Linked DNA regions of Homo sapiens: all the other regions are linked to region 3. Evidence: fine-mapped expression QTL. A gene starts in region 3. Each other region holds a variant in brackets. All regions are shown on one strand. Distances are between the middles of the regions. Region 1 overlaps SIRPB1 (signal regulatory protein beta 1). Region 2 overlaps LOC105372499 (a long non-coding RNA gene). Region 3 holds the start of SIRPB1 (signal regulatory protein beta 1). Region 4 overlaps SIRPB1 (signal regulatory protein beta 1). Region 5 holds the start of SIRPD (signal regulatory protein delta).

Region 1 (4,885 bases), 54 kb after region 3:
CAATCTTTGAGTGGTTTGACCCAAATGTCTCCTTCCACATTTCAGGGTCCCACAACTTCCCCATCAGGGCCCTATCCCAGCATAGCAGCCATTGAAACTGAGATTCATGCTCCGCTGTGATTCTGCTACTCTTCTATGATGCCCAGGACCCAATTCTCTATTCCTTCTGCCCTGTGGCTCCAAGAAATAAGAATCTGCAGTGCTGCCAAGAAGTCCTCTGGCTTCCAGCTGAACTTTAACTCATGATGAATCACTCTTAGTTTCTCATTGCCTTCCTCCCAAGAGTTCATGCCCAGCAACAGCTAACACCTTAGTTCTTATAACGACCATTTCCCAATCTGTTTTCAAAAGGCTAATGGCAAGGAATTTCCTTCCTGTGGTAACACTATCCCAGTTTAGTGCCAGTGAAAGTGTTATCAATCGCAACACAACAGCAAGTCACGGCTTCTCCAGTCCCATTCACCACCAGCCCTGGGGTCCTCATTGCTAGCTGATGAGTAATCAGATTCCCAACTTATATTTTAGAGTCTTCTTTCCAGACCACTTCCCAAGGACAGTTTCTCTGGGAGGCCACCTGAGGATGCATAAAGCAATGCAGGAGGCATCCTAGAGTGCTGTCAGGGTCAACATGCCTCAGGAATGAGGAGGCAGGAGTGTAGGAGGAGGGAGGTGCTGAGCCACAGTGCAGGCAGTACAAAGATGCAGCTGCTCTTGCAGAGAGGCAAAAGGCCGGAGGGTCCTGTAGATTTTTTTCAAATTGAGGGGAAGGGCTGGCCCTTCATATTCCCAATGCAGTCTATCTCTCATGTGGGCTGCCCCTTAGAAGGAATAAACTTGGGCAGTGCAGCTCTCCTCAAAGGAGAGAAAGCCCCAGAGAGCCACCCATCTGAGAACTGCCGGCCTGCAACACTCCAACACTCCAGCGGCTATAGATGCTGAGGTCTCCATTCCTTCCTTAAGGACCCACCAGCACCATTTTATTTTAAAAAAAATTTTTTTTAATACCTTTGTTACTTTTAACATCCAAAACCCCTTATTTAAAAAATGCAAACAGTCCCAACATGAGCTTCCGTAGATCTGACTCTCTGTGTCCAACAGAAAGATTTCAGATGACATCTGCACTGGGGTTGAGGTAGGAGAGATGATGTCTGAGGCCCTTCCAAGCCCGAGGCACATTCCCTGACTCACCAGGGAATTTTCCAGCCAGCAGGTTTAATTGGGTCTTGTCCCTGGAGGGCTCCCTGAGATCATGAGAATATGGGGTCCTCTCCCTGCCCCTGGGGCTAAGAAGGGCAGCATGCAACTCTCTCACTCTGAATCCATCCTCACACCACCTGCCCACCCTTTACTAATCATTCTCATGATCCTGGAGTGTTGGACTTGTCTTGGACTCAGGAGTCACCCTTGGGGACATAATGATGGGCTTCCCTAGGTTTGGATCCTACTAATCTCCTGACACTCCCTAAACTCTCTGGCCTCAGTTTCCCCATCAGAATGGAATAATAATCCCTGCCCCATGGGCGTGTGAGGATCAAGTGAGGAACCCAGTTGCCACATATATGAATACCTGAGCACACACTCTCTCCACCTTTTCCCTCCAGGAGGATAAACTGGCAGCCTGGGACAGGGTGAGTGAGAATGAGGAGCCACTTTCCCTGGCCTTTGCTTTCGGCTGGAGTCAGGAAAGCCAGAGCAGGATGCAAGTTCAAAAGCTTCAGAGGATTGATGGGCCCAGGTAGCCTCAGATGGGGTAAGTGGAGGCCCCTGGGATGAGCTCCCAGGTGGCCCCTCTCATGGCTCCTCCTCTTCCCTGATTTCCAGAAGCAGCGCTGGCTCCTACTGCTCCACTCCTCGTAGCTCTCCTCCTGGGCCCCAAGCTGCTACTGGTGGTTGGTGTCTCTGCCATCTACATCTGCTGGAAACAGAAGGCCTGACTGTAAGTTTAGGAGAGGGAGGACTGACCAA[G/A]GGCTCCTCCAGAAAGGCAAGGCCAGCAGGAGGGCCCAGCTCACATGCCATGCAGCTTCAGGGTCAGTGGAGTTTACAGAAGGTGACAGGGCTCCCTCAGGATACTCAGGAGTCTCAGGGAACCCTGTATGGGGCTCCCAACCCCCAGGGAGTGTGCAGGAGTTGGGATGGTCAAGGGTATTACAGGAGGTGGGATGCTTCAAGGGGGTTCAAAGTTGTCCCCAGTGGCCTAGGAGTCCCATGGAAAAGGTGGACAGAGGGGTCTAAGTGAGGGCCAACTGAGTGGGTGGTCCCTTGGAGGCCACTGCTGGGACTCCATGGGTTCAAAGTAATCCCCACCGTAGTGTTGAGAATTCCCAGATAGGCTGCTCTGAGGGCTGTTCCTGCTCTGACCTTCTGTGTGCTTGAGTGGAAAGCGGGGAAGAGGGAGCATCAGGACTTGGAAGAAGTGCTGAGCTGGCAGAGTCCTATCTCAGGTCTGCCTGTCCACCCATAACAGGCATCCCAAGAGGAGACCAGCACTAGGGACATATCAGGCTCTCAGGAAACATTTCTTAAATGATGAGCAGATGAATGAATGTGGATGTGTTTTCCAACAGCTCCTTCCTTCCTTCCCTGCCATGTAGGACCCTCAGTCTCTGCTGCCTCCTCCTTTCTTGAGAAGCTCAGCCTGAGAGAAGGAGCTGGCGAGAACCTTCCCCACACTCAGCTCCAAACGCCTCCTCTCCCAGGTCATCTGCCTGCCCACACGCTCCTGTTCCACCTTCACAAGACCATGATGCCCCAAAGCAGTGTCTCTATTCACGGTCCTGAGCAGGGGCCATGGGATTGGGCTCTGGGCACTGACTCATGGCACCTCCCTAGAAGGTGAGAAACACTCCAAATCTAAACACACCAGGACTTCTCCCATCCGTCGCCTTGGGACTGGCCATAAACCACAGACTCTCTCCAGGCTCTCAAGAGTTATCCTGTCTTCTGGATTCCTGCCTACCCCAACTCCCCCAGCCTTGTTGAGGTTCTCTACTGCCTCCTGAATACACATGAACCCCTATACCAATTTTAAGAAAAAAATGATTCTCTTTCCTCTTTGTCCAAGCATCCTATCCCTCAAACCCAAAAAGAAAGAAGCTCTCCCTTCTCTCTCTGTGATGGAGACAGTATTTCTTCTAGTATCCTGCAGCCTTCCCAGTCCTGCTGCTTGTGGTAGAAATGCTGCCACAGCCCAACATTGAGGAGCCCTCGATGACTGCCCTTTACAACTCATATTCAGTTCTGCCTCCAAAATGCATGTGTCCACTTACATGAGATGGTAAATGTTTAACAATGGACTTTCTGAAAGGGAAAAACCAAAAGCTGTTTTGCAGTGCTTGCCAATTTCTCTAGTGTAATAACTCCCAACCTGACCAATTTCACACTGCCAACAGTTAAACAACCAGATTGCAAGATTCCTGAAATTTAACAATTGGTTTTCAGGGCCCAGTCCAAGCCTGCTGCTGGAAACCTCAGAGTTAAATCCCTATTCTCCACACCTCTCACCTCCACCACCCCTCCCTGTCCCAGCCAGCATCATCTCTTTGGGGACCACTCCTCTGGCTTTCATTTTTCAGCCACAGTGATTCTTTGGAAAAGTCAAATCATATCACTTCTCTGCTTCTTCCCCAACACAGCTGCATGGCTCCCGCTCTCCCTCCTTCAAGTCTCTGCTCAATGTCACTTCATTAAAGGCACCTTCTATAAACTACCTTGTATAAAATATTATTTATTTTCTCTATCCCGGCATTCTAATTTCTCTTATCCTAATTAATTTTTCTTTAGCCCTTATTTTGATGAGTATTATGCCGAATACAGGCAGCCCTCACTTTTCATGGCAGTGCAAGATTGCAAAAATGACTGTGCAACCTGAAACCCAGGAAAGCAGTCTCCATAGTCAATCAGAAAAACAATGATCATTCTGTGACCTTTACCATTTTTTGTCAAAATATTAGAAACTCTCACACTCTCAGTTACAAATGTAGAGGACAATGAAAATATAATGAAATAAATATTTATTTGTGCACTACAATTCAAAGCATTAGAAACATTGAGAGTTCAAGTGCTGTTTCTTTGTAAAAATGTATCCAGAGTAGTTGGAAGAGTGCTTGCCTTTTTTTGTATATTTCTAATATGGAGTGATATAGTTTGGCTCTGTGTCTCCATCCAAATCTCATCTTAAATTGTAATCTGCATGTGTTGTGGGATGGGCCTGGTAGGAGGTGACTGAATCATGGGGGCGGACTTCCCCCTTGCTGTTCTTGTGATAGTGAGTTCTCATAAGATCTCAGTGAGTTCTCATGAGATCTGGTTTTTTGAAAGTGTGTGGCAAGTCCCCCTTCGCTCTCTCTCTCTCTCTCCCTCCTGCCACCATGTGAAGAAGGTGCCTGCTTCCTTTTCTCCTTCCACCATGGTTGTAAGTTTCCTGAGGCCTCCCAGTCATGCTTCCTGTTAAGCCTGTGGAACTGTGAGTCCAATTAAACCTCTTTTATTCATAAAATATCCAGTTTCTGGTAGTTCTTTATAGCAGTGTGAGAATGGGCTAATACACGGAGCAAGCATTGTTTCTTTTCATTTGTTTATTTTATTTTTATTTTTTTGAGATGGAGTTTCACCCTTATTGCCCAGGCTGGAGTGCAATGTCGTGATCTTGGCTCACTGCAACCCCCGCCTCCAGGGTTCAAGTGATTCTCCTGCCTCAGCCTCCTGAGTAGCTGGGATTACAGGCATGTACCACCACACCCAGCTAATTTTGTATTTTTAGTAGAGATGGGGTTTCTCCATGTTGATCAGACTAGTCTTGAACTCCCGACCTCAGGTGATCCACCTGTCTTGGCCTCCCAAAGTGCTGGGATTACAGGCATGAGCCACCATGCCTAGCCAGCAAGCA
Region 2 (4,885 bases), 92 kb after region 3:
GCCTGTAATCCCAGCACATTGGGAGGCCAAGGCGGGTGGATCACGAGGTCAGGAGATCGAGACCATCCTGGCTAACACGGTGAAATCCCATCTCTGCTAAAAAAAAAACAAAACATTAGTCGGGCGTGGTGGCGGGCGCCTGTAGTCCCAGCTACTTGGGAGGCTGAGGCAGGAGAATGGCGTGAACCCAGGAGGTGGAGCTTGCAGTGAGCCGAGATGGCACCACTGCACTCCAGCCTGGGCGACAGAGCGAGACTCCATCTCAAAAAAAAAAGATAAACAGAGCATCAATCAGCAGCTATGGGGAAATTTCAAGTGGCCTAATAGATATGTATTGGAGACACCAGTGGAAGAGGGGACAGAAAGAATATTTGAAGAAATAATGGTCACATATGTTCCAAATATGATGAAAACTGTAGACCCACAGATCCAAAAACTCGATGAACCCCAAGCACAAACCAAGTTGCACAAACCAATAAAGAAAATATCTTAAAAGCAGCCCCCCAAAAAGAAATATTAAATACAAAAGAACAAAAAATACAGGAGACTTTTCATCAAAAATAATGCAAGCTTAAGACAGTGGGGATACATCTTTAAAGCTTTTTTTCTTTTTTTTTTGAGACAGAGTTTCACCCTCATCACCCAGACTGGAGTGCAGCGGCGCGATCTCGACTCACTGCAACCTCCGCCTCCCAGATTCAAGCAATTCTCCTGCCTCACCCTCCCGAGTAGCTGGGATTACAGGCACCTGCCATCATGCCTGGCTAATTTTCGTACTTTTAGTAGAGACAAGGTTTCACCATATTGACCAAGCTGGTCTCGAACTCCTGACCTCAGGTGATCCACCCTCCTCGGCCTCCCAAAATGCTGGGATTACAGGCATGCCCCACGATGCCTGGCTATTTAAAGCATTTTTAAAAAGAAAACAATAATTAATTAGTCATTCTAGAATTTTTACCTAGCAAAAATATCTTTTAAAATAAATACATAAAATTAAGCATTTAATTTATTTATCTATTTTTTGAGCCAGTCTTGCTCTGCCATCCAGGCTGGAGTTAAGTACTCACTTTGGCAGCACAGATACTAAGAGTGAAATGATACAGAGATTAGTATGGCCTGTGTACACGGATGGAATGCAAATTTGTGATGCATTCCATATATTTTCCCAGTTTTGCTAGATGGAAAGCATTCTAGAGATGTATAGTGGTGATGGTTGCACAACAATGTGACTCATGCCACTGAAACTGTACTCTAAATGTGTACTCAATGCCACTGAACTGTACACTAAAAAATGGTTAAGATGGCAGATCTTATGTGTACTTTACCACAATTTTTGAAGTGAAGAATAAAGATTTTATCAATCATACAAAAGCTGAAAGAATTCATCATCAACAGATCTGCACTACAAGAAATGTTAAAAAGAAGTCCTTCCAACAGTAGTGAAATGATACCAGATGGAAACCTGGATATATACAAAGAAATTAAAAGCAAGAGAAATAGTAACAATGTGGGAAAATATTTTAAAAGTATATTTAAATGTACTTAAAACATAGCTGTTCAAAGCAAATACAATAATAATATATTTGACAAATTATAACATACATGGAAGTAAAATGTGTGAGAAAAATAGCACAAAGACCAGGAAGAGAGACACAGAAATATATTACTGTAAGAATTTTATGCTATGTGTGAAGTGATACCTTATCACTCATGGTAAATAATGATGAGTTAATAATGTATGCCAGAAATCCCAAAACAACCAGTAAAATAACACAACAAAGAGTAATAGCTAATAAACTGACAAAAGACATAAATCAGAATCATAAAAATCAATCCAAAAGAAGACAGAAAATGAGGTACACTGGAAAAGAGATGAGGCTAGTAAGTAGCAAGATCATAGATTTAGACCTAGTCATATAAATAATCATATTAAATGTAAATGGTTTAAACACACCAATTAAAATAAAGTGATTTTTGCATTATATTTTTTAAAGTAGGATCCACTATTTGCTGCCTGCAGAGAATTGATTCTCTTCAAAAATAAAGGCACAAATAGATTAAAAATAAAAGGACAGAAAAATATATGCAACATCAACAATAATTTTTTAAATATGGAATGCCTACATTAATATCAAAGTGTATTTAGAACAAAGAAATTATGAGAACATAGAATATCATTTATAATAAGCTTATCAATTAATAAAATATACCAATTCTAAATGTTGATGCATATAATAATAGAGTTTCAAAATACATAAAACAAAACTCATGGAATTGCAAGAATATATAGAAAAATCTACAATTATAGTCAGATCTCAAAACCTCTCTTTCAATAATTGGTAAAAAAAGGAGGCAGAAAATCAGTAAAGATGTAGAAGACTTGAACAGCACTATAAGCCAACTTGAGCTAACTGATACTTATAGAATGCTCCATCCCAAAACAAGAGAATACACATTCTTTTTAACTACAAAAGAAACATTTACCAACATAGATTGTATTCTCAGCCATAAATAAGTCTCAGTAAGTTTGAAATAAATCAAGTCATGAGAAGTGTGTTTTCTGACCACAATGGAATTAAATTTATTTATTTATTTTTAATTTTATTTAATTTAACCCTCAGTAGTCATAGAAATTAAATTTAAAAAGCAAACATCTCTAGAAAATCTCCAAACATTTTAAAACTAAATATACTTCTGAATAATACATTATTGAAAAAGAAATC[G/A]GAAGAAAAATTAGAAAGTATTTTGTATATGTATGTATGTATGTATTTATTTATTTATTTGAGACAGGGTCTCACTCTGTCCCACAGGCTGGAGTGCAGTGGCACAATCACGGCTCACTGTAGTCTCAACCTCTCGGGCTTGGGTGATCCTCCCACCTAAGCCTCCTGAGTAGCTGGGACTACAGGTGCACTCCACCCTGCCCAGCTAATTTTTGTATTTTTTTGTAGAGACTGAGTTTTGCTGTGTTGCCCAGGTTGATCTCAAACTCCTGAGCTCAAGTGATCTGCCTGCTTCAGCCTCCCAAAATGCTGGGGTTACAGGCATGAGCCACCACTCCTGGCTTAGAAAATATTTTTAACTGAATGAAAATGAAAGCATAGCATACCAAATTTGTGGCATGCAGCCAAAAGAGTACTTAGCAGGAAATTCATAGCACTAAATCCCTATATTAGGACAGAAGAAAGGTTTTTTTCAGAGACTTCAAAAAGTAGGAAAAAATGAAGAAAGGAAATAATAAGGAACACAGCAGAAATCAGAAACATAAAATGAAAAAATATAGAAAAAATCAATAAGAGCAAAAGCTGGTTCCTTGAGAAAATTCATAAAATTAATAAATCCATATCCACACAGTTAATCAGGAAAAAAGAAAGAAGATACAAATTACCAATATCAATAATGAGAGAGGTGACACTACTACAGACTCCACAGATATTAAAAAGATTATAATGGAACTTTATGAAAAACTTTATACCAATAAACTTAACAACTTTGATGAAATGGACAAATTCTTTGAAAGACATAGACTGCTAAAGCTCACTCAAGAAGAAATAAATAGGCTAATTATCGCTATATCTATTAAAGAAATTAAATTTGTAGTTTAAAAAGCCTCTGACAAAGAATAATTCAGACCCAGATGACTTCACTGAGGAATTCTATCAAACAATTGAGGAAGAAGTACTAACAATTTTACTCAAATTATTTCAGAAAATTAAAGAGGAAGTGAGGCTTCCCATTCTGTGAGGCCAGCATTACAGATAAAGAATCATAGAAAAGCAAAACTATAGATCAATATCCCTCATGAACAGAAAATTATTATAGAGCTATAGTAATCATACAGTGTGGTATTGGCATCAAGATAGACAAGTGGGGGGGAGGGATAGCATTAGGAGATATACCTAATGCTAAATGATGAGTTAATGGGTGCAGCACACCAACATGGCACATGTATACATATGTAACAAACCTGCACATTGTGCACATGTACCCTAAAACTTAAAGTATAATAATAATAAAATAAAATAAATTAAAAAATAAAAAAAGAAAAGAAAAAAAAGACAAGTGGATCAATGGAACAGAATAGAGATTCTAGAAATAGACTCATACATATGGTCAATTGATTGCTTAAAAAAAAAGTATGAAGGCAAGTCAGTGGAAAAAGAAGAGACTTTTCAACTGTGGTGTTGGATCATTTGAAGAGTTAATAGACCAATGGAACAGCATAGAAAAATCCAGAAGTGTATCTATCTAGTTCCTCCCACCATACACCAAAATAAATTCCAAGTGGATCAGAGATTTAAATGTAAGAAACGAAACTATTTAAGTACTAGAAGAAAACATATATATATATATATTCTTTTATAACCTAGAAATGGAGAAAACCTTCCCAACTGTAACTCAAAATGCAGAAAGATTTAAAAGATTATAATTTTGATCGCATTGTACAAAAAGAAACTTGTGTATAGGTGTGTGTACTATTTTGCGATTTACATCGTAGACAAAAAATAATCCCTAATATAGAGAAAGCTTCTAAAATTTTAGAAGACAGTCAACCTTTTAGAATTATGGGCAATAAATGGGAAAAGACAAGTTATAGAAAATGAAATACAAATGTTTCAAACATATAAAAATACGCTCAACCACCCTTGTATAGGAAGAAATGCAAATTAAAAACTACACTGAGACACGGTTTCTCACCTATCTGCTTGACCAAAAATCCAAAAGTTCAACAGCACGTTCTGTTGGGGAAGCTAAGGCGAAACAATTACTCCATATTTTGCTGTTAGGAATGCAAAACCATATAACTCATAAAGAGGTGAACTTGGCAATATCTAGCAAAATTACCTCGTGACCCAACAATTCAACTTCCAGAAATGTATCCCAA
Region 3 (4,885 bases):
TAAATATGTTAATGTTAAAAATATTTTCACATTTTATATTTTTATTTTCTGAGGTATTATTTTCTAAGATGTTATTTTCATTGCTGTTTTTGTTTTTTAGTTATTGTTTTTGAATTTATTATGATGTCGCTTTTCCCCAAATCTTTAGTGATTACTGCTTTCACTGTAATCTTTACAGGAATAATGCCCTGAGTGATCATGGGCTGTCAGCACTTTATGGAACATGGCACCTATCCCAACCTTGCTGTGGAGGCTGCGCCTAATTGACGTTATGGCTTCTTCTCTGCTTCCTTCCTGAGAGATATCTCTCCCTTCTTATGAGAGGTGTCATAGTGAAGGCCATGGAGTGTGACAACCTGTGTTCTAGTTCTAAAAGCTGGGTGATGTTGAACAAATGTATTATTGCCTGCGTGCCTCAAGTTTCCTCACCTATAAAAAAAGGTTAATGGTAGTGCTAATTTCATGGGACCAGAGTGATGAATTAATGAGGTAACTGACAAAATGCTTGGCACAGTACCTGGAGCACAGGACATCTGCAGTAAACACAGCAGCTACTACCCTTCATGTCATATAGAGACTAGTTTCTTGTTTTAAAGTGTAATTTGGCATCGATTAACATGATTTTATCATTTTTATATTCATTTCTGTGAGTGTGGAGCAGGAGGTGATGATTTCACCCTCTGTGCATCTGCCACATTGAAAAAGAAATTTGCATGGAAATGTGATGACTTTTACAATTTCATTTGACAATTACTCATGATAGGTGAAGGATTGCAAGCCCAGCATGGGAAAGAGAGGTTTCCAGACAGGTCTTTCTTAGTCACAGATGATGGAGGAGAAACCATTTCTCCTACCAAGGAAATTTTTCTAAAGCACAAGTATGTCAGGGAAGCAGTGAACTCACCCTGTACACAAATGTAATTATAGCCACAATTTTTTGGTTATAATTAAATATGAATCAAACCTTCTGTATGGCTTATATTACTCTTACCATATCACTACAAGGTGCATGTTATAACTTCCATTTACATGTAATTAAGTTAAGGCTTAGAGAAGTCAAGTGTCTTGTTGAAAGTCACACAGCTGGAGATTGTAAGAAAAGGAATTCATCTACAGATTGACAAAAAGCAGGGTGAAGAGGATCCAGAGGGAGAAATTGATCTCAGAGTGTCAGAGGTAGACCAAGTACACCATAAAAGCTGGGTTCCAGAAGTCCGGGGAACATGGGAGAAGGCCACTGGTGGGAAACTCAGCATGCAGTAGAAATCCATTTAAAAGCAATATTTGAGTTCCCTCTCTTCACCTGGCACCATGAGTATCAATAATAACCTACTGAATCTCAGGGATGTATAGTCATTATCTCTTTTGATGTTCACTAAAACATGGCAGTGAGACTTATTATCCCAAGGTTAGAAGGCAAAACTGAACCTAGGCAGGCCCAGTAACTTCCCCAACTCCTTAGCACATCTTCTTAGGGTATTTATTCTCCCTCCCTCCTCAGTTCCCATCTGAAGACAGTGATGAATGGAATAGGTGTTCTATGTGCAGAGCAAAGAGTATTGAAATCGATGTGACTGCTCCAGGAATCTGCCCTCCATATTCTCCCCCATAATAAACATATCCCCTTTCCATAACCCATAATCCCCACCTCACCTCACAAAGCAGATCCTTATTACCCTAAGCCCACTTCCTCTCCTGGAAGAAGTCAGGAAATAATTCCTTCTGCTGGGTGCAGGCATATGAAAGTGCTAACGGCCACATGAGACTGAATTTGGGCTAAGTTTTGCCATTTATATTTATAAAAGTTCGGAATAGGGAACCATTTCAAGAGCAGACCTGTTCCTCTCCAACACTGAGCAGGTCCAGTGATCCCTCATCCTGCCCCAACTGAGTAGCACTTGGTTGAGGCTGTTGTAGAATGAGACCACAAGCCAACCACATCCTGAGGTCTTGAGATGGAAAGTTTAGGAAACATTTCATAACCACAGGTCCTTCCTGGCTTAAGAGCACCAAATGGCAAATCACCAAGAAGACATAAAGATGGGGTTAGGAGTCATGGAAGGAGTTAAGACCTCAGGTGGGAAGGAAGCATTATTTCTGCTAAGCCTGTCTGATTCTCCTGAAATGGGGCATGCATAACTGCTTGCATTGTAGCTGCTTGCTGTTCCTGATTTCTGTTTCACAATCCAGAAGCAGGTTACTGCTTCACTCCATCGCAGCCACTTCCTCTTGAACTAAGGGAGGCAGGGCTTGTCTTCTCTCCTCAGAGCAGAGTCTGCGATCTTCCCAGCACAGACGTTTGGACAGAGCAGGCTCCTAAGGTCTCCAGAATGCCCGTGCCAGCCTCCTGGCCCCACCTTCCTAGTCCTTTCCTGCTGATGACGCTACTGCTGGGGAGACTCACAGGTGAGCACTGCCTTCGGTTAAAATCTTTTTTCCTGCCCACTGAGCCATGGCCTGTCCCTGGACTTTCAGGGATTCCGGACAATGACAAGTGCTGCCAAGAAAGGCCAAGGATTAGGCTTTGACTGAGAGCAGAAAATCAGGGAGCTGAGCACTTTCTCTGTGGATCTGCAGCTGGCTACCAGAGGCATTGAACCACAGGACGATTCAACCACCACAACAACAATTACTTACATTTTGATAATATTTCAATTGAAAAAGCAGAGAAGAATCATTATCTAAATCCTCACCAGTCCTGAGGCCCTAGGGCCAAGTGACATGCCCAAGTCCACAGAGTAAGCTCAGAGACACCCTAACAGGGTTATGTGGCTCTAGGCCCAGCCCTCTCTCTTCACCAAACTGAGGATGTGAAGTCTGTAATAGTGCTCACTTGAGTAGGGCAGTGGTGTGGTGTATCCTGGGAGTGTTCAGCCACCATCCTCCCTAAGGGTGCTCCTCACTTTGTCCTCTGTTCCCCCATGCTCCTCCCTCCCCTGTGACCTGATTCTTACCACCCATTTCTCTGTGGCCTCTTCCTCTTTAAGAAGTTCCACATTTGCTGCTTACTGGGTCCTATATTCCTTTCCTAGGGCTTCCATAACAAAGAACTGCAGGCTGGGTGGCTGAAACTACAGATATTTACTTCCTTGCAGTTAAGGAGGCTGAAGTCCAAGATCAAGGTGTCAGCAGGGTTAGTTTCTACTGAAGTCTCTCTCCTTGGCTTATACAGGGCCATTTTCTCTCTGTGTCTTAAACACATGATCTTCCTCTGTGTGTGTCTGTGTCCTCATCTCCTCTTCTTATGAGAATATCAGTCTTGTTGTATTAAGGCCCACCCCAATGACCTCATTTAACTAAATTACTTCTTAAAGACCCTGTCTCCCAAACTGTAACGTTCAGAGGTGCTGGGGATTAGAGCTTCAACACATGCATTTTGTGGGACACATTCAGCCCATAACAGGTACTACAACCTCCTTTGGTTCTCTTAAATTTCCCATGGATAATTTCTTTCCCCTTCCCAAGACAGGCAGGATTGGAGGGCCTTTCCTGGTGCAGCCTGGGAGAACCCTGCTCACAGCTCCCAGACAAGTTACCTGTCCTGATCCCTTCTCAGGCCATGGAGCTGACCCCAGAACCACAGGGCTGGGCACAGCAGCCTCTCAATTCCCCACTGGGCCCTGCTGTGATGTCACCTCACAGGCCCTAGAGGGCAGGGGTCTCACTTTTCAAATTATTTTTCTCACACATACACTGTACCCAAATGACAGCAGTAAGAGTTTAACAATTGAGCTCTTCCTACCATGTAGACACAGTTATTAGCATTTTGCCTGTTTTAGCTCCACTAATCCTCACAACATCCCTGTGTGAAAGCTGCAACTATTATCCCCTATTTCCAAACAAAGACTCAGGCAGAGGGAGGAACTTGTCCATTCATTGTCCCCTACCTCAGTCAGTGGAGCAGCTGAGATTCAAGTCCAGGTCGACCGGCTCCAAAGTTCATTCTTTTAGTCGTGTTATGCTACTAGCAGAAATATTAGAAAATGCAGGGAAGTAAACATAGAATTAATTATTGCCTACCACACTTGTTAGCAACAACCAGAGTTACAACTGTGATGTATGTACTTCTAAATTTGTTATTAATGTGTTGGATGCTTTCTATGGGCCACATATTTTACTTTCTATGGGCCAGATATTTTAATGAGATTTTAACGTGTGTTGTAATTTTATTTAATACACAAAACAAACTTATATACTATCACAATAGGTCACACTTTGATATATATTTGTGAATGTATATGTGTGTGTCTATATATACATATATATGTGTGTGTGTGTATATATACATATATGTGTGTGTATATATATTTGCAAATGTGTGTATACATATGTGTGTATACATATGTATATGCATGTATGCATATAAGTAAGTGTACATGCACACACAGGAGATTTCATTTTTTATCATTGTTTCTCCAAGTTTCTAATTTCAATGAAACTTTTAACAAAATATTTTATTTTTATTTGACAGAACTGTATATACTTATCATGTATACCATATTAATGAAATATGTGTACATTGCAGAATGCCTAATTTGAGCTAATTAACATATGACCTACCTTGTATATGTATCATTTCTGTGGTGAGATCTCTCAAAATCTGCTTTCAACAATTTTTGAGGTTACGAATTGTGTTATGAACTCTAGACCCCATATTGTACAATAGATTTGTGGAACTAATTTCTCCTAACTAAACTGAAATTTTGTATCCTTTGACCAATATCTCTCCAAATGCACCCCCTGCCTAGTGCCTGGTAACCAATATTCTACTATCTACTTCTATGAGTTCAACTTTTTAAAATTCCACATATGAGAGACATTATGCAGTATTGTCTTTCTGTGCCTGGCTTATTTTACTTAGCATAATATCTTCCAGGATCATTTA
Region 4 (4,885 bases), 49 kb after region 3:
TCTGTTGGTGTGGCCTGGGTCTTTGTCTCTTGTAATTAATTAACGATGAAAAAGCTAACCACCTTTGGCTTTCTTAGTACTCAGTGATCCTTGTTTTTCACCCAAACCTGTCCTAACTGAAGATTCAGATTCCCAAAAATTTCCTCTTTTCAAATTTAGGACTTCCAGCAGATTAGAACAACTAACAACAACAGCAAAATGATTGTTAGGAAGGCCAAAGGAAATAGCATTTATCTGAAAGATAAAGAGGTGCAATTTGGGTACACTGAGTCAGTGAAACCCTGAATAGTGTCCCGTATGGCAATACAGGACAGGTTTTTTATAGGGGATTTTCACAAAAGGTTGTTTTTGGAAACAGTTCATTAGCTGGTTGAAAATCCTCAACTGCAAACCCACTCTCATTGGTTATTTCATTAAAGTACTCCAGGTGAAAGAGATCAAAATCCCACGGACCCTGGCTTCAGTTGTTATCCAGGTCTATCTACTGCAACATCCTGTGGCTTGACCTTTAGCAGGTGTGATTCCAATGCTCTTACAAACTCTTGGCTCTACGTTAAAGCTTTATCCTTAATTAATGCCTTTTATTTGACAGAACGAAATATTTGTGAAAAGAAAAATACGGAATGTTTCATATTTTTATAATACCTAAAGAGAGACCTCTGTGTATCTGTAAAGTCTGGGTTAAAGATAGATCTGTGTTTTTTGGGGGAAGCATCTTCTGTGTTTGATCCAGAGCAAAACTGCTTCCATTGCCCCATTGAATCCTGGCGACATCCCAGGAAGTAGAAACGCCGTCCTCCGTCCTCCTGTTTTGCGGATGAGGAGCTGGGGTTGTCAGCCCACCCCTGTCCTGGGCTGAGCAGCCTGGTTGCAGCTCTCACGGTGGTGCCACTTTGCCATTGATCCCTGTATTGGCTTCTATAAATGCCCTCTCTGAGGTTAGTGAGCCTTCCGGGGGAGGACAGCTAGGACCAGTTAATAACATGGAGGGAGACCAATCAGTAATTTTGTTCCTATGCCCAGATTGGTGGAAGTCTCCCTGTGTGGAGAGGACTTTGAACTCAGGCCTGGACTTCCCTCTGGGCCCTGCCCCTACTCACTGTCTGACCATGGCCTGGTTCTCACCTCTAAGAGCTGTTGTGTCCTGATCTGTAAAATGAGAATAAGGACACTGCCTTCACGACATTATTAGAAAGATTAAAAACTAACGTCTCAGAAGGTTCTTAACATGTCAAACGCTTATCATCAGTGATGGTCATCTGAGTCATGTCTCCTGATTATCGATGGTCCTTTTGTAGCCAAACCCTCTGCCCCCGTGGTATCGGGCCCTGCGGTGAGGGCCACACCTGAGCACACAGTGAGCTTCACCTGCGAGTCCCATGGCTTCTCTCCCAGAGACATCACCCTGAAATGGTTCAAAAATGGGAATGAGCTCTCAGACTTCCAGACCAACGTGGACCCCGCAGGAGACAGTGTGTCCTACAGCATCCACAGCACAGCCAGGGTGGTGCTGACCCGTGGGGACGTTCACTCTCAAGTCATCTGCGAGATAGCCCACATCACCTTGCAGGGGGACCCTCTTCGTGGGACTGCCAACTTGTCTGAGGCCATCCGAGGTAGAAGACCCTCACACCCAGCCCAAGCCCACACCTGGCTGCCAAGCCCACTCCCCTCTCCCCAGGCTCCAGAGCTTGAAAGGCCTGGAATCTAATTCCTAACTGTGTTGTCCACCTCCCATGCACCTAGGTGAGCCGGTCACTTACTATCATTTTAATGGCAGCTGTCAGGGGACCAGCAACCATGTGCCAAGCTCTGGGCTACAGAGTTTCATTTATTTCACCAAGAGCAACTACAATTAGTGAGCACCTACTAGGAGCCAAATCACTATGTGCTCGGCGATTTCACTGATTTTGCTACAGTTCTTACATTCCAACTGCATGCCAGGGGTTGTGCTTGTAGATTTCACTCATCCTTAGCCTAGCAGCAGCTAACAGTCCTTGGGCACCTACTGTGCGCCAGGCACTGTGCTTAGTAATTTCACTCATATGCAACGAGTGCCCTCAATGTCTGAGCACCTGCTGCCTGCCTAGCACTGTCCTGGTGATGCCCTCACTGTGTTGGTGGGAGCTACGTTATTTAGCCCTCCCTGTGATCTGTCTGTGCCACAAGATCAGAGCTTCTGCCCTGTGCTGTTTCAGTTCCACCCACCTTGGAGGTTACTCAACAGCCCATGAGGGCAGAGAACCAGGCAAACGTCACCTGCCAGGTGAGCAATTTCTACCCCCGGGGACTACAGCTGACCTGGTTGGAGAATGGAAATGTGTCCCGGACAGAAACAGCTTCGACCCTCATAGAGAACAAGGATGGCACCTACAACTGGATGAGCTGGCTCCTGGTGAACACCTGTGCCCACAGGGACGATGTGGTGCTCACCTGTCAGGTGGAGCATGATGGGCAGCAAGCAGTCAGCAAAAGCTATGCCCTGGAGATCTCAGC[G/A]CACCAGAAGGAGCACGGCTCAGATATCACCCATGGTGCGGTTACTTCCCATTTTTAAATTTTGTCTTTTTCTTTAATGTTAAAAGCAATATTCATGCTTGTCATAAAATAAGCTAGAAGTCTATAAATATAAAGTAGAATTTTAACGTCTACATTAAAATCCTACACTCCATGGGTCACCACTACTTAGAAGGTTCAAGGTAACAATTGGCCATTTGTAGACACCCTTAAGCCCCATCTACCAGGAGAAACTGTGCGTCAAGTCTGATGCACAACTTGATAGATATTTTGACATAAATATACATTAAAGGAAAAAAGAGAGAGGGAGGTGATCCGTTTGTTTATGAAGTCCTGTGTCTCGCCTTCTTCTGCATTTCTCGCCAGCACAGCACCTTGCCTTTTACACTTTCTAACCTCTACCTTGTCCCTATTCTATCCTAAACTTTTCCATCCGCATCTGTGACCTCAGCCACCAGTCTCCAGCATCTGCTCTATAAATTTCAGAAAGACAAGTGAAGTTTAAGCCTGGACAGACCCCCAGGTGACCTGGTCACAGCACAGGCTTCTTTTGTGTTCTGATGGTGATATTTGACCAACAATAATCACAACCACTCTGCACATTTACTATATGCAAATTTCTGTTCATCTCTGATCTCCTTTCCTGCTTCAAACACCCAGTGAGCTTGGAGTTTTACCAAAGGGGAAACCAGGACTTAGGAAGTAATGAGGGATGTTGTTGAAGACTTCTTGTCATTAGACCAGGTTATTGGTCCAAAGTAATGAAGGTAAATCTAGTCCCTGAGGACAGGCTCACTACCAGGCTATAATGGGAATTTGTGCTAATTAGAGAAACTTTCCCTTTCTGCTGCGCTTTGTCCCAAGGACCCAAATTTGGCCAGTGTTCCCCCTCTCTATAACCAAAATATGTCTTATTTCCCTCTCTTTTAATACCAGGAGGGGTCCCTCTACTCCAGTCGAAAGACAATCTTTGAGTGCTTTGACCCGAATACATCCTCCCACATCTCAGGGTCCCACAACTTCCCCATCAGGGCCCAACCCCAGCATAGAAGCCATTAAAGCTGACATTCAACATCCTTTGTGATTCTGCTACTCTTCTAATGATGGCTGGGGCCCAATCTTCTATTCTTTCTGCCCTGAGGCTCCAGGAAATAAGAATAAGGACTCAGGTTCCTTCCAAAACACCCTATGATGTTTGCGTCATCTCCTGGGTCAGTGCTGAGTCACGGATTTGTTCATGTCCCTGCCTGCCAGAAGAGGAAAGACACGAAATAGAAGACAAACAATGTCCCCAATCATCAGAGATGTGTGGAAGGTGCATAGTCACGTCCACTGAAAACTTGCTCACGCATGCACCTGCAGTTGCACATTGAGGGATCATGTGATCAAGGACATTTTTCACAAAACCAGTGTCATTGTCCACTTAAATTTTAAGTGTTCAAATCACTAAATTTCATAAAGTTATTAAAATAATTTCCTCATATCATCTAAAATGGAGCATACATTCACATTTTACCAAATTTTTTAGAACCATTTTCCTGTGTGTTAAATTTGGTTTTAATTTATCTTTAAATGCTTGTGTTTTCCTTTGAAAGATCTGGGCCCCAGGGATATTTTTGGATATTTTATAATCATAGATTCAATGTCGTTAATAGTTTAGGGTTATTCACATTTTTCGTTTCCTATTGAGTGAGCCCTGGTAAGTTGTGTTTTGCATAACTTTTGGTCCATTTCATCTAAGTTGTCATATTTATGTGTGTAGAGTTGTTCATAATATCCTCTCATAACCCTTTTGGTGTCTGCAGGGTCTGCAATGGTATCCCACGTTTCATCCTGATACTAAAAATGTGTCATTTCTCTTTTCTTTTTCATCAGTCATGCTAGAGTTTTTTCCCATTTTATTGGTGTTTTCAAAAGATTGACTCTTTGTTTCAATGGGTTTTTGTATTGTTTTTGTGTTTTCAGTTTCATTAATTATCTGCTCTCTTCTCTCTTTTTTTTTTTAAATTAATTCCTATCTCCTGCTTTCTTTGGGTTTACTTTGCCCTACTTTTTGTAGTTTCTTTAAGTGCGGGATTTATATTTATTGACTTGAGACCTCCTCTTTTCTATGTCCTCCCTTCATCACTTTCTGTGGCTGGGGGCTGGTATTTGGGCATAGAGTCCCTGCTGTTTGGCTGCTGGGCTGTTCCTCAGTCCTCAGGTTCTTACCTCGCTCTTCCACCTTGGAAGTTCTCCTATGCCTGCTCCTCATGATATTTCTTGGGTTCATAGTTGTACTTCTCAAGGAGGCACAGGATGAGATGAGTCTGTACCATCTGGACAAGGTTGAGTCTTTTCTTAGACTTCCAACCACCCACTGGGGCTGAGA
Region 5 (4,885 bases), 61 kb after region 3:
TCAAAATCAAGGAAAGTCTAAAAAACTGTCATAGCCAAGAGAAGCTTGAGGAGATATGACAAGTAAATGTAACAGGTATCCTGGATGGGATGCTGGAAGAGAAAAACGACATTAGGTAAAAAGAAAAGATCTAAATAAACTATGAACTTTGATTAATCATAATGTATCAATATTGGTTCATTGATTATAATAATGTATCATATCAATGTAAGATGCTAATGATAGGGCTCAATTTTTCTGTAAATCTAAAGCTGTCCTTAAAAAATTAAGTCTATTAGAAAAAATTAACGTCTTGTCCTCAGCTAGGTTTTATTTGCCTCTTGTACCCCGTGGGGAACAATGCAAGGAAATGTGCGGTAGGGAGACTTTGTTGATATTCCAAAGTTTTATCTCACTTCAAAAGCCTGAGGTTTCCTTTCCTCTCGTCCTTCCTCTGTCCACTACCAGAGCTCACCCCAGATCTAGGCACTCAGATCCCAGAGGAAGTGGCTTCTCAATCCCCCGTGATGCTCACCCTAAACTTTTCCCATTAGTAAAATCCAGGTCAGACCAAGTGGGATCAGAAAACTTTGGGTTATGTGGGTGAGCTGGGATAGCTTTGAGGACCTGACTATGAGTGAGTGAATAATGTCCTGAGCCCAAGTCTTCACAGGAACAAGTTGTTCCCATGAATTGTGTAATGGATGCTGAGAGGCACCTGGCTGTGGAGATGGTCCTCAGCATCAGCTCTATTTGCGATTGTCTCAGCTGAAGGGAGTGCCCTTGCTTAGGTCGTATCTGGTAACAAACCACATCTCATTGGACTCATCAACCTAGTCGTATAAAGGCCCAGCTCTCTTATCCTAACTCAGAGCAACTCTGGAGGAATATCCTAGTACCAGGCTCCATGCAAGGTCAGCTGAGGTCTTCAATGGGACTTCATTGCAGCCCAGCTTCTTCTTCTACCCAGTCCTGCTTCCATCTTCTCCCGTCCACAAGTGTTGATCCTAAAAGTACTCCCTGAAAGATAACCTGCTTGTTCATCTTCACCCCAGAGTCTGTCTCCCAGGGAACCCAACCTGGGACAGTGAAGCTATGCTACGTATCAGAAAGGTGGGGATCCCTTCATCTCTAAGGGAGCAAGTCAGTCACAGAAGAAAGCCTTGTTTATAGTACCTCCAGATTAATGAGAATCCACAAAAATGTTTATTCAAGAGAGGGACATAATTAAATCTATGTTGTAAAAAGACCAGTCTGGCTGAAGAAGGAGAAAGAGATTATAGGGGGCAAATAAAAATGGGGGTACCCTAGTGAGAAGGCAATTGTTCTTATTCAGGCAAGAGATGATGATAGAGATGGAGAAAGAGATTAATTCAGAAGGGATTTAGGAGGTAAATCCAATAGGGCCTGGTAGGGGCAAGATAGGAGTGTGAAACTATGCCCCCAAAGAGTTAAAGAAACCAGTCACTAAGAAATTCTTGAGTTTACAGGATAGCAGATAAGAAAAAAAAAAAATTGCTAAACTGCCGAAACTTCCTCCACTTGTAGGATAACAAAACTGACTAAAATCTGTTGGAACCAATATGGCCAACTGGAGTTTGCTCAGAATGAGCTTGCTGATGTCACAGCCTGAGTTTCTACCACGTATTTCATGATGACGCCCCAGGGTTTTGCACATGGGAGCCGTGAAGAGGCATAGAGAGATAACTGTACATGCCCAAGGACTTTCCAGACCTCCCCTTTCCTTTCACAAATCACATACTAATCCCAGAATCCAACCCCTAAACTTTTGCTAATAAAACTACTGCCTTGAAGCCAGCACATGGAGCTAGATTTGAGGTAGACTTCTGTCTTCCTGTTAGTCAACTTGCAATAAAAAGCTTTTCTTTTCTCAAAAGCCTGGTGTCACAGTATTGGCTTCTAGCACATCAGGCAGCAACCCCCTTTCACTTGGTAACAAGTGGATAAGTGAGGGTATAGAACATGAGTCCCTTCCTGGTTTGACAAACTGCTTAGATGATGGTACCATATACAAAACAGGCATGGTGTGGGAGAAGATAAGGTTTGTGAGTGCAGATCTGAAACTCAAACTTGAATATTTAAGGTATACAAAGAGGCCAGGCTCAGTGGCTCACACCTGAAATCCCAGCACTTTGGGAGGCTGAGGCAGGTGGATCATCTGAGGTCAGAAGTTCGAGACCAGCCTAACCAATATGGTGAAACCCTGTCTCTATTAAAAATACAAAAATTAGCCAGGCGTGGTGGTGGGCGCCTGTAGTCTCAGCTACTCGGGAGGCTGAGGCAGGAGAATCACTTGAACTCGGGAGGCAGAGGTTGCAGTGAGCCGAGGTCATACCATTGCACTCCAGCCTGGGCAACAAGAGCGAAACTCTGTCTCGAAAAAAAAAATACATATATATATATATATACAAATGAAGATGTCAAGAAGGTTGCAGAATATACAGGTCTGTATCATGGGCCCAAGATTACTCAGCTCTTAGGAGGTGCGTTCAGGATTCTAGCCTAGATTATATCTGATTCCAAAGCTGGCACTCTTGGATACTGACCCGTGAGTACTGACTCTCCAAGGAACTTAGAGTCTAATGAAAGGTGAGAAGATTCCTCAGAGTAGGGGAAGGGGAGGATGATGGAGGCTGGAGGAATGTTCCTGTCTAGTTCCAAGCAGGGGCCATGGATAGGAATTCCTTTGTGGAATTCATCATTTCAGAACAACGGGATAGGATGATGACATCACAAGGGGATGGGGACTCTTGTCGTCTCAGAGAGAACGTGCCAGCCTGGCTCTGCTTTCTTTTCCTAGAGGGTCTAACACCTCTCCCGGCCCTGACATCTAGCTGGTTCCTGAGGAGGAGGCAGAAGTCATGAGGAGGCAATGGGGAAACAGCCATGGCAGCCAGTGCCTGCCTGTGGATGCTTGGACATTAAAGGGTCACCAGCTGAGTGTGGGCTGAGTGTCCCTGAACACAACATTTGTGCTTAGGAAGAACCCATTCCAGAGCTGAGAGAGAAGGATGCCAACATGCT[G/A]CTTCCTCCCTCTTTCTGGGGGCATTTCTTCTGCCCCTCCAATCCCATCTCTGAGAGCTGGTCCCAGGTCCAGCCCAAGCAGGAGAGGCAGCCCTCACCTTCCCAGGTGTTTGTAGGCATGTTACTCTCCCTCCTAGAGAGTGTTCCCCGCAGCTCCGCCTTCCCTGCAGGCCTCCTCCATCCTCTAAAGCACAAATCATCACCACCTGCACAACTCGAATGTCTTTCTCAGCCATGCCTGATTCCTCTGCAGGAAGGAAAAAGGAAGCAGTTCCTGGTAGTGTATGGAGGGACCCACAGAAAAGCCAAGAGCCCACAGCAGATATTGCTTGTTTTTTACCTCTAACTACTCTGGAGTGCAAGAAAGGGCATCCATTGTAAAGTCCAACTCTTACCAAGTGGGTGAGGCTATAGACATCTTGTCTCTTTCTTCAGCTGTGCAGCTCAGACAGGCCCAGATGTTGAGCTCATGCAGGAGCTAGACCCATACCTGCGCATCATGTGGATGAGGCCTTTGTCTAGCCTATGTGTCTGAGGCTCCTAGATAGGCAAAGGCCATGAAGTTGGGGAGAACCTGTGAGATGGGATGAAACTCAGGAAGGAGTATAAGGCTGTGGGTGTCAAGCCCCCCAGCCCCAGCAAAGCTAAATACTTCCAGCAGCAACTTCCTAGCTTGAAGCAACCTTGTCTGTTCAATTTTATAATCACAAAGGAAAAAGTGTCCCAGTCCCCTGGCCTTTCCTCTCATCACAATCCCCTTCCTCTGACATCACAGAGGCAAGAACTGTCTTCTCTGCTCGGAGCACTGAGTCGAGGGCATCTCCAGGACAGGCATTCAGGCAGAGCAAGCTCCAGGTTTCACCACAATGCCCATCCCTGCCTCCCCACTCCACCCACCTCTGCCTTCCTTACTGCTGTATCTGCTGCTTGAACTGGCAGGTGAGTGGGGCCTCAGTGTATGTGTGTGGTGGGTTCTCCCCTCTGCCTGTTTAGTGAACTCTCCCTCACCTGTTCCCATAGAATTTCTTTTGGGAGGGTTTTCTCCATCTTATCCCAGAACAGGCAGAACTCAGAAGACTACACTGGGATGGTCCCCAATTCTGACAAAGTCTCCCGGTGGCCATGTCTGTTGCAAATCTCTTTGCTCAGGTAAACGACTCACACCTATGGTCACAGGGCGGGGCACAGCATCCATCACAGCTCTCACCCTCCAGCCTCTGGAGGGTGTAATTTATTTTATTTTATTTTTACCTTTACTTATTTTTTTGAGACAGGGTCTCACTCTGTCACCTAGGCTGGAGTGCAGTGGTGCGATCTTGGCTCACTACAACTTCCACCTCCTGGGCTCAAGTGATTCTCGTGCCTCCAACTCCCAAGTAGCTGGGACTACAAGCACGCGCCACCATGCCCAGCTAATTTTTGTCTTTTTTGTAGAGATGGGGTTTCACCATGTTGCCCAGGCTGGTCTCAAACTTATGAGCTCAAGAGTTCCACCTGCCTCGGCCTCCCAAAGTGCTCGCATTATAGGCGTGAGCCACCACACCTGGCCCCTGGCAGATTTTACACTTCTTTCTGTGAAATTCAGTTTTTTATTTCTCTGTTGCCACTGCATTTGGCTGCTCTTAAAAAGTACTGCAAACTGGGTGGTTTAAATTACAGAAATTAATTTTCTCACAGGTCTGGAGACTAGATATTCAAAATCGAAGTGTGGGCAGGGTTGGTTCTTTCTGAGGACTGTGAGGTTGAATCTGTTCCATGTCTGTCTCTGAGCTTCTAGCAGTGGTAGCCTCAAACATTTGTTGGATGGCAGGTGGCACCACCCTCCCTGTATCCTCACATCATCTTACTCCCATGTATGTCT

Evidence for each region. PIP is the estimated chance that this variant, and not a neighbour inherited with it, causes the effect.
Region 1: its variant is fine-mapped to the expression of SIRPB1 in whole blood (TOPMed, PIP above 0.99).
Region 2: its variant is fine-mapped to the expression of SIRPB1 in whole blood (INTERVAL, PIP above 0.99).
Region 4: its variant is fine-mapped to the expression of SIRPB1 in memory regulatory T cells (Schmiedel 2018, PIP 0.92).
Region 5: its variant is fine-mapped to the expression of SIRPB1 in whole blood (INTERVAL, PIP above 0.99).

The regions. Positions count from the first base shown.
Region 1 is chr20:1,563,204-1,568,088 of GRCh38, reverse strand. SIRPB1 (signal regulatory protein beta 1) reads left to right here. Exons shown (of 6, transcript NM_006065.5): 5 at 1,822-1,936; 6 at 2,592-4,885. The coding sequence ends at 1,934. Among named protein-coding and RNA genes, the nearest start is that of SIRPD, 7.9 kb to the right of the region's middle. The variant G/A (reference allele first, on the strand shown) is at 1,966.
Region 2 is chr20:1,525,334-1,530,218 of GRCh38, reverse strand. The region is part of intron 2 of LOC105372499 (a long non-coding RNA gene); the gene reads right to left. It also overlaps the pseudogene RNU6-917P. Among named protein-coding and RNA genes, the nearest start is that of SIRPD, 30 kb to the left of the region's middle. The variant G/A (reference allele first, on the strand shown) is at 2,724.
Region 3 is chr20:1,617,390-1,622,274 of GRCh38, reverse strand. It overlaps SIRPB1 (signal regulatory protein beta 1), which reads left to right and starts at 2,266. Exons shown (of 6, transcript NM_006065.5): 1 at 2,266-2,406. The coding sequence starts at 2,331.
Region 4 is chr20:1,568,451-1,573,335 of GRCh38, reverse strand. It overlaps SIRPB1 (signal regulatory protein beta 1), which reads left to right. Exons shown (of 6, transcript NM_006065.5): 3 at 1,299-1,616; 4 at 2,199-2,531. Among named protein-coding and RNA genes, the nearest start is that of SIRPD, 13 kb to the right of the region's middle. The variant G/A (reference allele first, on the strand shown) is at 2,497.
Region 5 is chr20:1,556,659-1,561,543 of GRCh38, reverse strand. It overlaps SIRPD (signal regulatory protein delta), which reads left to right and starts at 3,839. Exons shown (of 4, transcript NM_178460.3): 1 at 3,839-3,963. The coding sequence starts at 3,891. It overlaps LOC107985409 (a long non-coding RNA gene), which reads right to left and starts at 3,537. Exons shown (of 3, transcript XR_007067493.1): 1 at 3,420-3,537; 2 at 879-999; 3 at 7-92. It overlaps SIRPB1 (signal regulatory protein beta 1), which reads left to right. Exons shown (of 6, transcript NM_006065.5): 6 at 1-159. The variant G/A (reference allele first, on the strand shown) is at 3,025.